2 separate regions of the Homo sapiens genome follow, and region 1 is linked to region 2. The links come from fine-mapping of genetic effects on gene expression. A gene starts in region 2. The other region holds a variant in brackets. All regions are shown on one strand. Distances are between the middles of the regions. Region 1 holds the start of LOC105372990 (a long non-coding RNA gene). Region 2 holds the start of SEC14L3 (SEC14 like lipid binding 3).

The links. PIP is the estimated chance that this variant, and not a neighbour inherited with it, causes the effect. A credible set is the group of variants that fine-mapping cannot tell apart.
Region 1: its variant is the best candidate, but not a certain one, in a credible set for the expression of SEC14L3 in esophagus mucosa (GTEx, PIP 0.87).

The regions. Positions count from the first base shown.
Region 1 is chr22:30,430,760-30,435,145 of GRCh38, forward strand. LOC105372990 (a long non-coding RNA gene) reads left to right here and starts at 1,927. Exons shown (of 4, transcript NR_148046.1): 1 at 1,927-2,485; 2 at 2,858-3,136; 3 at 3,533-3,626; 4 at 4,262-4,386. The variant T/C (reference allele first, on the strand shown) is at 2,182.
Region 2 is chr22:30,470,039-30,474,424 of GRCh38, forward strand. It overlaps SEC14L3 (SEC14 like lipid binding 3), which reads right to left and starts at 1,979. Exons shown (of 12, transcript NM_174975.5): 1 at 1,867-1,979; 2 at 469-544; 3 at 174-217; 4 at 1-40. The coding sequence starts at 1,920.

The DNA.
Region 1 (4,386 bases), 39 kb before region 2:
GTGCAGTGGCACAAACTTGTCTTACTGCAACCTCTGCCTCCCGGGTTCAAGCAGTTCTCCTGCCTCAGTGTCCCAAGTAGCTGGGACTAGAGGTGCATGCCACCATGTCCAGCTAATTTTTGTATTTTTAGTAGAGACGGGGTTTCACCATGTTGGCCAGGCTGGTCTTAAATTCCTGACCTCAACTGATCTGCCCACCTTAGCCTCCCAAAATGCGGGGATTGCAAGCGTGAGTCACTGTGCCCAGCTCCCTGCTCCATTCTGGAGATGCAGGGAATTAATTGAAGGTGGGGGATGCTGGGGGAGGTTTTTGGGCACCCTCTGCTGGCCATGTTCTCGCTGAGTCTGGTTCTCCGCCTGAGCTAGCCTGGGCTGGATTGCCAGGAGACAGCCTCCTGCAGGACTGTAATCAGACAGATGTCCTCCTGGCAGTGAGGAAGGAGCCCCAGGTGGATGCTTGCCACCTGTGCCTTGGCACCTGCCTGCCCTCCCCAGTCCCTGCCATACCTGGCTATGAGGTCTTCACTGCCCCATTCAAAGCTTATGGCTTCATCCAACTGGTGAGGGGGCTGTTGGAGGCTCACGAGGACAAGGCTGCCAAGAGCCAGGGAGTACCCGGGAGATTCGGGGGAGAAGAGCTGGGGTGTCTGGGCTGGAAAGAAGGGTAGAATCAGATCATACTGATTTGCAAGTCACAGCCTCTCCGAGTGTGAGTTTTTCTCTCAAAGATGCAGAGCCCTGTATCTCTGCAGAATTCAGTAGCTAAGGATTTGATGCAGATTTGCCATTTAGCATCTGTGTGTTTGTACGTGCCCTTTACGTGCATTTGTTTCTTGCATCCTCAACAGCCCCGTGAGGAGATAAAACCATCATTCCCATATTCCACATGAAGACACTGAGGCTCACAGAAGGGAAGACCCCACTGTCTACCACCAGATGCAACTCAGCACATCATTCTTCAAAGCAGAATTGGCTTTTTTTTTCCTTGAGACAGGGTCTCGCTCTGTTGCCCAGGCTGGAGTGCAGCGGTGCAATTATGGCTTACTGTAGTCTTTACCTCTCAGGCTCAAGTGATTCTCACATCTCAGCCTCCCAAGTAGCTGGGACCACAGGCGTGTGCCTGGATAATTTTTTGATTTTTTTTTTTTTTTTTTTTTTTTTGCAGAGACTAGATCTCGCTATGTTGCCTAGGCTGGTCTCCAGCTCCTGGGCTCAAGCGATCCTCCCACCTCGGCCTTCCAAAGTGCTGGGATTACAGGTGTGAGCCACCGAGCCCTGCCAGAATAGGCATTTAAGCAAGACAGGGACCTCGAATGAGGCCTAGCAGGAAATTGAGGCCCAGACAGGGCAAGTGACTTCAAGACCACCCAGTGAGGTGGGGGCCCAAGCTGGGAGTAGACCTTTCCTGCCTTTTCCCACCATCCTAAGGAGCAAGTATCCTCGCAGATCTCAGGAAAGATAGTGGAATTATTTGCTGACCTGGTCTATGCACCACCACCCAGTTCAGAGCAGCCCTGCAGTGCTGCCTCCCGCCATTGGGTCAGCAGTGTGGTCAAGGCGTGAGCAATGCCTAGCACCCCTAAGCCTGTCTAGGGCCCTGCCACCTGGAGGTCTGCAGGAAGAGGGAATGGTAGGTTGGATGGGGGCTGCCCCTCCAGAAAGGGGCCACCAGGCGCTGACCTCCTGGCCCCCACTTGGTGTGAGCCTGGGGCAGGGCTGGAAATGCTCACCTGGGGGTTGGAATTTGGAATTCCTGGCCTTTTCCCTCCTGTTCTTCCTCCTCATGGGCTGCCCTGGGGGACTTGGCATGGGCCTTTAGTGTTTGTTTTCTGGGCCCCCTCACATGCCAGAGTTGCAATGTTCCCCGCCCCCCCCTTATTTCCCTGCCAGCCCAGGAGCTCCCATCTCACCTCCCACCTCCTTGGTCACTGACTCTCTGGCTGCGTTTGGAAATCTGGACTTCAGCATGAGACTTTGGCCTGGTTCTTTGCCTCCCACAGGTGGGGGACATTGGCTGGGCTGAAGTAATGTCCCAAGAGGAAGGTCTTCTAGCTCAGGGACTCCTGTGCCTCCAGTTCTGGGCCAGGTTACCCCTGGAGAAATAAGGAAGTGAGGGAGGACCAGTAACAGAGTGTGAGGGCACTGGGCTTCTGGCCACCTGGCCCTAGCTTTTCCTGCTTC[T/C]CCTCTTGCTGTGTGGCCTCAGGCAAACCCTTCAGCATCTCTGGGTCTCGTGTCTTCCCCATCTTGGTTTCATTCCACCTCAGGGTGGGGCCATACTGGAGGATCCAGACCCCACCAACACCAGCACCATTTTCCTGGGCTCTGAGCTCCACATGGAGTTTGCTGTGGTTGGCAGCTCCCATTAGCCTTTACAGGTATATGTGGACGAGTGTGTGATCAGCCCCAGCCAGGATATGGAAGTGGCCCCTGCACACTACAGCCTTGTCAGGAATCATGGGTACTGAACCTGGAGGAGGAGGATAGGGTAGGATGGGTACAATTCAGTGGGTGATATCTCTGGGGAGGCTGGGACAGGGGCTGAGAGCCTTCCAGGGCTGGAAGGCACGGATGCCCAGATAGTGCTCCCTGGGCGTTCTTGAGTAGTCCTTTCTAGGCCAGGGGAGCAAGAATGCTTTACTGGCCCTTTCACCTCTGGAGCCTCTGTTTGCCCTTCTGTGAAATGGGGATAGTGCCAGAATCTTCAAAGCCTGCTGTGTAGACTGAATGGGGTGACGCTTAGCTCAGTGCTTGGCATGCAGAATTCTCAACAAATGATGGTGTATGGTGGTGTTGGGGCTAGGACCAGATCCCAGTTCAGGGGTCTGACCCTGATGACCTTCCAACCTGTGCCTTCCAGGTGCCTGGTGAACGGCAAGAACTTCCACTCCCACTTCGTGCCCCAAGAGGTCCCCAAGAGACTGGAGCTCTCCTTCCAGGCCTTCAGCTTTACTGGTACTCCTGCTGATGTGAGTGGAAACAGATAACCCCCTCCCCACTCTGCCACCCCGTAGGAACAGAGACCCAAGCTGAGGAATCTTTGGAAGTTACGGGGTGCACCACAAGCTGTTGCTCTGGAATCTAAAGGTCCCATCTGATGCTACCAAGAAGGCCTGTTCCTTCCACAGGGGCACTCATGGTGAGTCATGTTCACCAAAGGTGTACTGCATGCCTTACCCTGTAACTGGCATTTGAGGTACATGACCTCACTTAATTGTGTGGGAGGTGAGGAAACTGAGGCTCAAAATAGCTCAGATTGAATTTCTGCAATAGTTCCCCATGCTTGGCTGGACCACAAGCCCAACTGCTTTGGCCTAGAGTGGGCAGTGTGAGGTATACTGGGAATGGAGGCTTTGGACTGTGACCTAGACCCAGGTTCAAATCCCAGCTCCAGCTCTTGCTGGCTGTGACATCATGGGCAAGTCACTGACCTTTTGTTAGCCTCTGTTTCTTTGCTTGTTAAATGCAGGTCTGGTCCATGCCACCCCTAGCTCCCATCTCTGGTGCACTGACCACCTCCATCCCTCACCTCTAGGTAAGAACTTCTGGATGCCTCCCTGGGAGTATGAGTGACAGTTGTGAGATTACCTGCCTGGCCCCCTGATTACCCTATCAAAGGTCCTTGGCAGGTAGGAGGCCCCTGTTTTGGGTGTGGAGGGTGGAGGTAGGCTCTGAGGCAAGGGAGGCAGCTGGCCCGGGGAATCAGTCACAGCCTTGCATGAACAGGCTTATAGAAGACATCATCTTGCTACTAAAGGCCTCTGAGGAAACTGACACTGGCCTGGACCACAAAGACCCACTCAAGGTGCCCATTGATCAGAACCAAGGAGGGTCCTGGCTTCTGGATCCTGTCTGGAGAGGCTTCTACTGTGTGGGACCTTGGGCAAATCCTTTCCCTTTCTGGGCCTTGGTTTCCCCAAGTGCAAAATGAGAGCATTAGATTGGCCTGCCACTTTTGAGCCTCTCATGTAATCTTTATTAAACAGATATCTGGAGACCCCTTCACCTCCACCCACATAACCCTTGATATATGCCCTTCTGAGAGTTTCATAGAGGAGAGAGAAGGCTTGTAGTCACTCACACCATAGTATAAACAACATGTTATCTTTTCTGTCCTTGGAAAAAAAATAGCTTCATATTCTCTCAACTTTCAGTATCAGTAAACAAATAGTAGAAGGTCAGAAGTTTATAGCTGTGTGTGTTGGGGGTGTGAGGGGATGTTGTGTTGTGGCTTAAAACTGTCTTTGATGTCTTTGGCTTCCAGATTCCAATCAGGCCTCTGAGAAGGCTTCCCATCAGGCCCCTGAGAAGGCTTCCAATCAGGTGACAGAGAAGGCTGACTTGTCCTCTGAACTGAGTCAGGCTTCTGACTCTAGGGGGCCTGGAGAC
Region 2 (4,386 bases):
GGATATGGTCAATATCCATGGTCTTCCGGAACTCCATGTACTGAAAGGGAAATGAGTGGTAAGATCCCACTGGGCTCCCAGTGCCCTGAGAACAGGGATGGAAGGAGGGGCTTGAGGCATGGATTGCCCCTGACAAATCCCCTCCATAAATTTCCAGAGTGGATAGGTCTCACCTTGCGGAGCAAAGCCTCCGACTTCTGCAAGTCAAAATTCCGAGCTGTGGGAAAACAGAAGGAAGGTGTGAGACAGGAAAGATGCCTTGTCTTACTCCTGGCCAGTGGGAGCTATGGAGGACACTGGGGGCCTGGGTGAGACCTTGCTCCCCTACCCCCTTCCCTCCTCTGGACCTGAACATGTGAAGCAAGATTGTGTGGATGGACCCTGAGAGCCATGAGACACTCTGGAGCAGTTGAGACCAGGCCCCTCTTGATGCCCCCTGATCCCAACCTCTCCCACCTCTGCCCTCACCTCGGAGCCAGCGTAGAAGGAAATAATCATCAGGGTTGGGCAGGGCAGGAAGCACATCCTGGACGTTTTCTCGGAACTGGCAAGAGAGATGCTGGTTAAAGTGGCTCTCTCACATTGAGCCTTGGCCTCCAGACTCAAAGACTGTTTTCACAACCTCTCCTTTCCTCCCACATGCAAAATGGCCCACATTGATGAAAGGATGGGTTAATGGTTGAATAGAAGGGCAGATGGATCACTGGATAGGTGGATGAATGGAAGGAGGATAGATGGATGAATAAATGGTTAGAAAGAAGAATAGATGGGTGAGTGGGTAGGTAGATGGAAAAAGGGAGAAGAAATCAATGGATGAATGGATAGATGGATGGATGGAGAGTGGGTGGGTGGATAAATCAGTGAATGGACAGAGGAGAGATGGGTGGGTGATTGAGAGAAAGAAAGATGGATAGGTGGCTGCGTGGGTAGGAAGAGGGATGGGTGGATGAAAGAAAGGATAAACAGCCAGGTATGGTGGCTCACGCCTGTCATCCCAGCACTTTAGGAGGCTGAGGTTGGTGGATCACCTGAGGTCAGGAGTTTGAGACCAGCCTGGCCAACATGGTGAAAACTCATCTCTACTAAAAATACAAAAATTAGCCAGGTGTGGTGGCACATGCCTGTAATCCCAGCTACTCAGGAGGCTGAGGCAGGAGAATTGCTTGAACCTGGGAGACAGAGGCTGCAGTGAGCTGAGATCGCTCCACAGCACTCCAGCCTGGATGACAGAGACTCCATCTCAAAAAAAAGAAGAAAAAGAAGAAGAAAGGATAAATAATTGGGTGGATGAATAAGTGGATTGGAGTTTGGATGCATTCTTAGTTCCCTCCATGTGTTAGCCCTCAAAACATCTGCTTTTTTTCATCCCATCTTCTATTAAAACATGGTTAATAATTATATGTCCTCTTCTTCCTTTAGCTCTTTGAAAGACAACACTTTCTGCTCTGTCTCTTGGGCTTTTACAGACTGGTCATCTTTCAGGATCCCAAAGAGGAAGGGGTTAAAGGGCAGACCAGCAGCATCTTTCAGCTCCTACCTATGGTGCCTGGGAGGGAGGAACGGGGGTACCTGGCTGCCAGGTAAACCTCTCTGGTTCTGGCTCCTGGATGAGAAGAAGTCAGGCTTGACTTGGGTGGGCACCACCCACGTTATTGCCTGGAAGTGGTGCTAGTCCCTCAACCCCCGCCCGGGACAGGGTTGATGTTACTGGGCACCGTGGGGCTTGACCCTTTGGGAGGTAACACCAAAGAGACAATGTCAAGGACATGCTGAATCAACTGAGTGGGGCAGGATTCCAGCCACTTCTTTCCACCCCCCAGCCCCTTTCCCCTGGTCTTCCGGAACTCCAGGGGGAGGGGCTCTCACCTTGGCCAGGGTCTCTGCCTGTTTGGGGCTCAGGTCTCCAACTCGGCCGCTCATGGTGCTGGCTGGGGCTTGAGGAGTGGTGGCCACTATAGGCAAGAGGCCAAGCCTAGTTTGTCAGCCCTGACCCAGCTGGGTCCTTTTGCCCCCACTCCTGGGCGTGGCTCCAAGCGCCTCCTCATGGGCCAACTGTTTAAATTGCAGATTACATAATTGGGATTAAGTGAGGTCCCCTGCTTGGCTTGGGGACAGATCTGGAGGGGCAGGCGGGCATGGAGCGTGTGCCAGAGGTCCCCTGCCAGGAGGAGGCAGCTGGGAGGAAGGGAGGCTGGCCTCCCGTGACCTTGGAGCCCAGAGTGAGTGCCTGTAGAACCCGCTGACCCTCCCAGGCCTCCAGTGACCACTGCCCTGGAGAAGGGGGAGTTTCAGGAGAATGAGGACCGCTCCTTGTGGGTACCCTTTCTCCCTGAGCCCCAGTCTTCCCACACTTAGGATTCTGCAAAGATCACCCCCCTCTACCCAGCTCTGAAAGGGTAGGATTCTGAGGCTTGGTCAGTGTAGTAAACAGTTCATTCACTTTGTTGGGGGTGGGAGGCCCAGGTCCTTCTTTTGTGTCCACAGTCAAGAAGAGGACAGATGGCATCTTTTGAACGTCACTTGCTTCATTTATAAAATGGGGCCGTTAATGTTTGCCTTCCCCTCCTTATGTGGTTAGAGGGAAGATCTAATGAGACATAGGGACTGTCAAGGGTTGTGTGCATCTGAGGGATACTCTCCTTCAGCTCTCCTGGTCCCCCCTGGAGCTGTAAGCTTCAGCTCCAGGAAGGGAGAGACCCTGTTATCCATGACTCTCTCTGAAGAAACCATCAGCTTGAGGCTGCAGCATGGCCACATGGCCACATGGCCACATCTCAGCCTTGAGGGGGTCTGCATGGGCTGAAACCAACCCCGGGCTAGCCTCGGCCCCAGCAGCTGGGCTAGCCCACACCATTCTGCCTAGGGCTTTTCTAGGTCCCCTACTCCTGGGGCATCCTGGGTACCCACCCCTGAGCTACAGTGGGCCTCTATTCTGGGCTAACCCAGGGTCTCTTTAGGCTAGTAGATGTTGGTCAGTATCAGACATCTTCTCAGGGACATCTTCCTTGCTCTGGGCTCCTCACAGAGTTGGATCCAGAAGGAGAAGGCAGGGCTAATGCTGGCCATTTCCCTCTGCCTGGGGAGCCCGTGGCATGTACTCAGGAACAGTTAGGTAACTCTCCACACCCCAGCCCTGCCCCATTTCACATTCCAGCCTCAATTTCTGCAAAGCCCCAGCTGCTGTCTACACCCACTTCCTGCCAGGCCAGTAATGTACAGAGATTGGGTTCCTCCACTGCCCTTTCCCGAGCCACTAATCCTGCCCATTTCTCACCAGTCTCCTTTCTCACCCTAATCCCTATAATGTGAGGTGTGCTAGTTACTTCTAGGGGCATCGGAGACTGTGAAGGAGAGCCAGGAGGGAGGGTTGGGGGTCTCCTCAGGAGTTGTGAGCCTTCACACTGAGCTCTTTTCCTGACCCAGACCACAGATTTGTCAAGTACCTTGCTATGTTCACAAATCCTCATCAGCTACAGTGCCACTCCACAGAACTTCCTGTGATGGTAGACATCTTCTGTCTGGGGTGTCCTGTTAGACATATCTGGTAGCCACTAGTTACATGTGAAAGATGGTTAGCGTGACTGAGGAACTGAAGTTTTAATTGAATTGGATTTTGATACATTTTACTTTAAATTGTTCAATCTGGCTAGTGGTTACCATATTGGATGGTGCAGGTGGCCCATTTTTATTTTATTCTACTTTATTTTATTTTATTTTTGAGACAGGGTCTCACTCTGTTGCCCAGGCTGGAGTGCAGTGGCATGATCTCGGCTCACTACAGCCTCGACCTCCCCAGGCTCAATCAATCCTCCCCACCTCAACCCCCCGGAGTAGCCTGGACTGCAGGCACATTCCACCACGCCCTGCTAATTTCTTATATTTTTTGTAGAGATGGGGTCTCATTACATGCATTACCTCATTTTGGCCTGGTGAGGTGGCTCACACGTGTAAACCCAGCACTTTGGGAGGCCGAGGCAGGTGGATCACCTGAGGTCAGGAGTTCCAGACCAGCCTAGCCAACATGGCAAAACCGTGTCTGCTAAAAATACAAAAATTAGCCGGGCGTGATGGCGGATGCCTGTAATCCCAGTTACTCAGGAGGCTGAGGCAGGAGAATGGCCCGAACCTGGGAGGCGGAGGTTGCAGTGAGCCGAGATCATGCCACTGCACTCCAGCTTGGGGGACAGAGTGAGACTCCATCTCAAAAAAGAAAAAAGCAGTGCATTACCTCATTTAAACCTCAGAACATACCTGTGGTGTTGGGTAGGTACTATTACGCCCATTATGCAGATAAGCAAACTGAGGTATGGAGAAGTAACTTATCCAGGGGTAAACCCATGCAATTAACCACTCTGCCATTGTGCTGTTATGCTATCCCATAGTCTT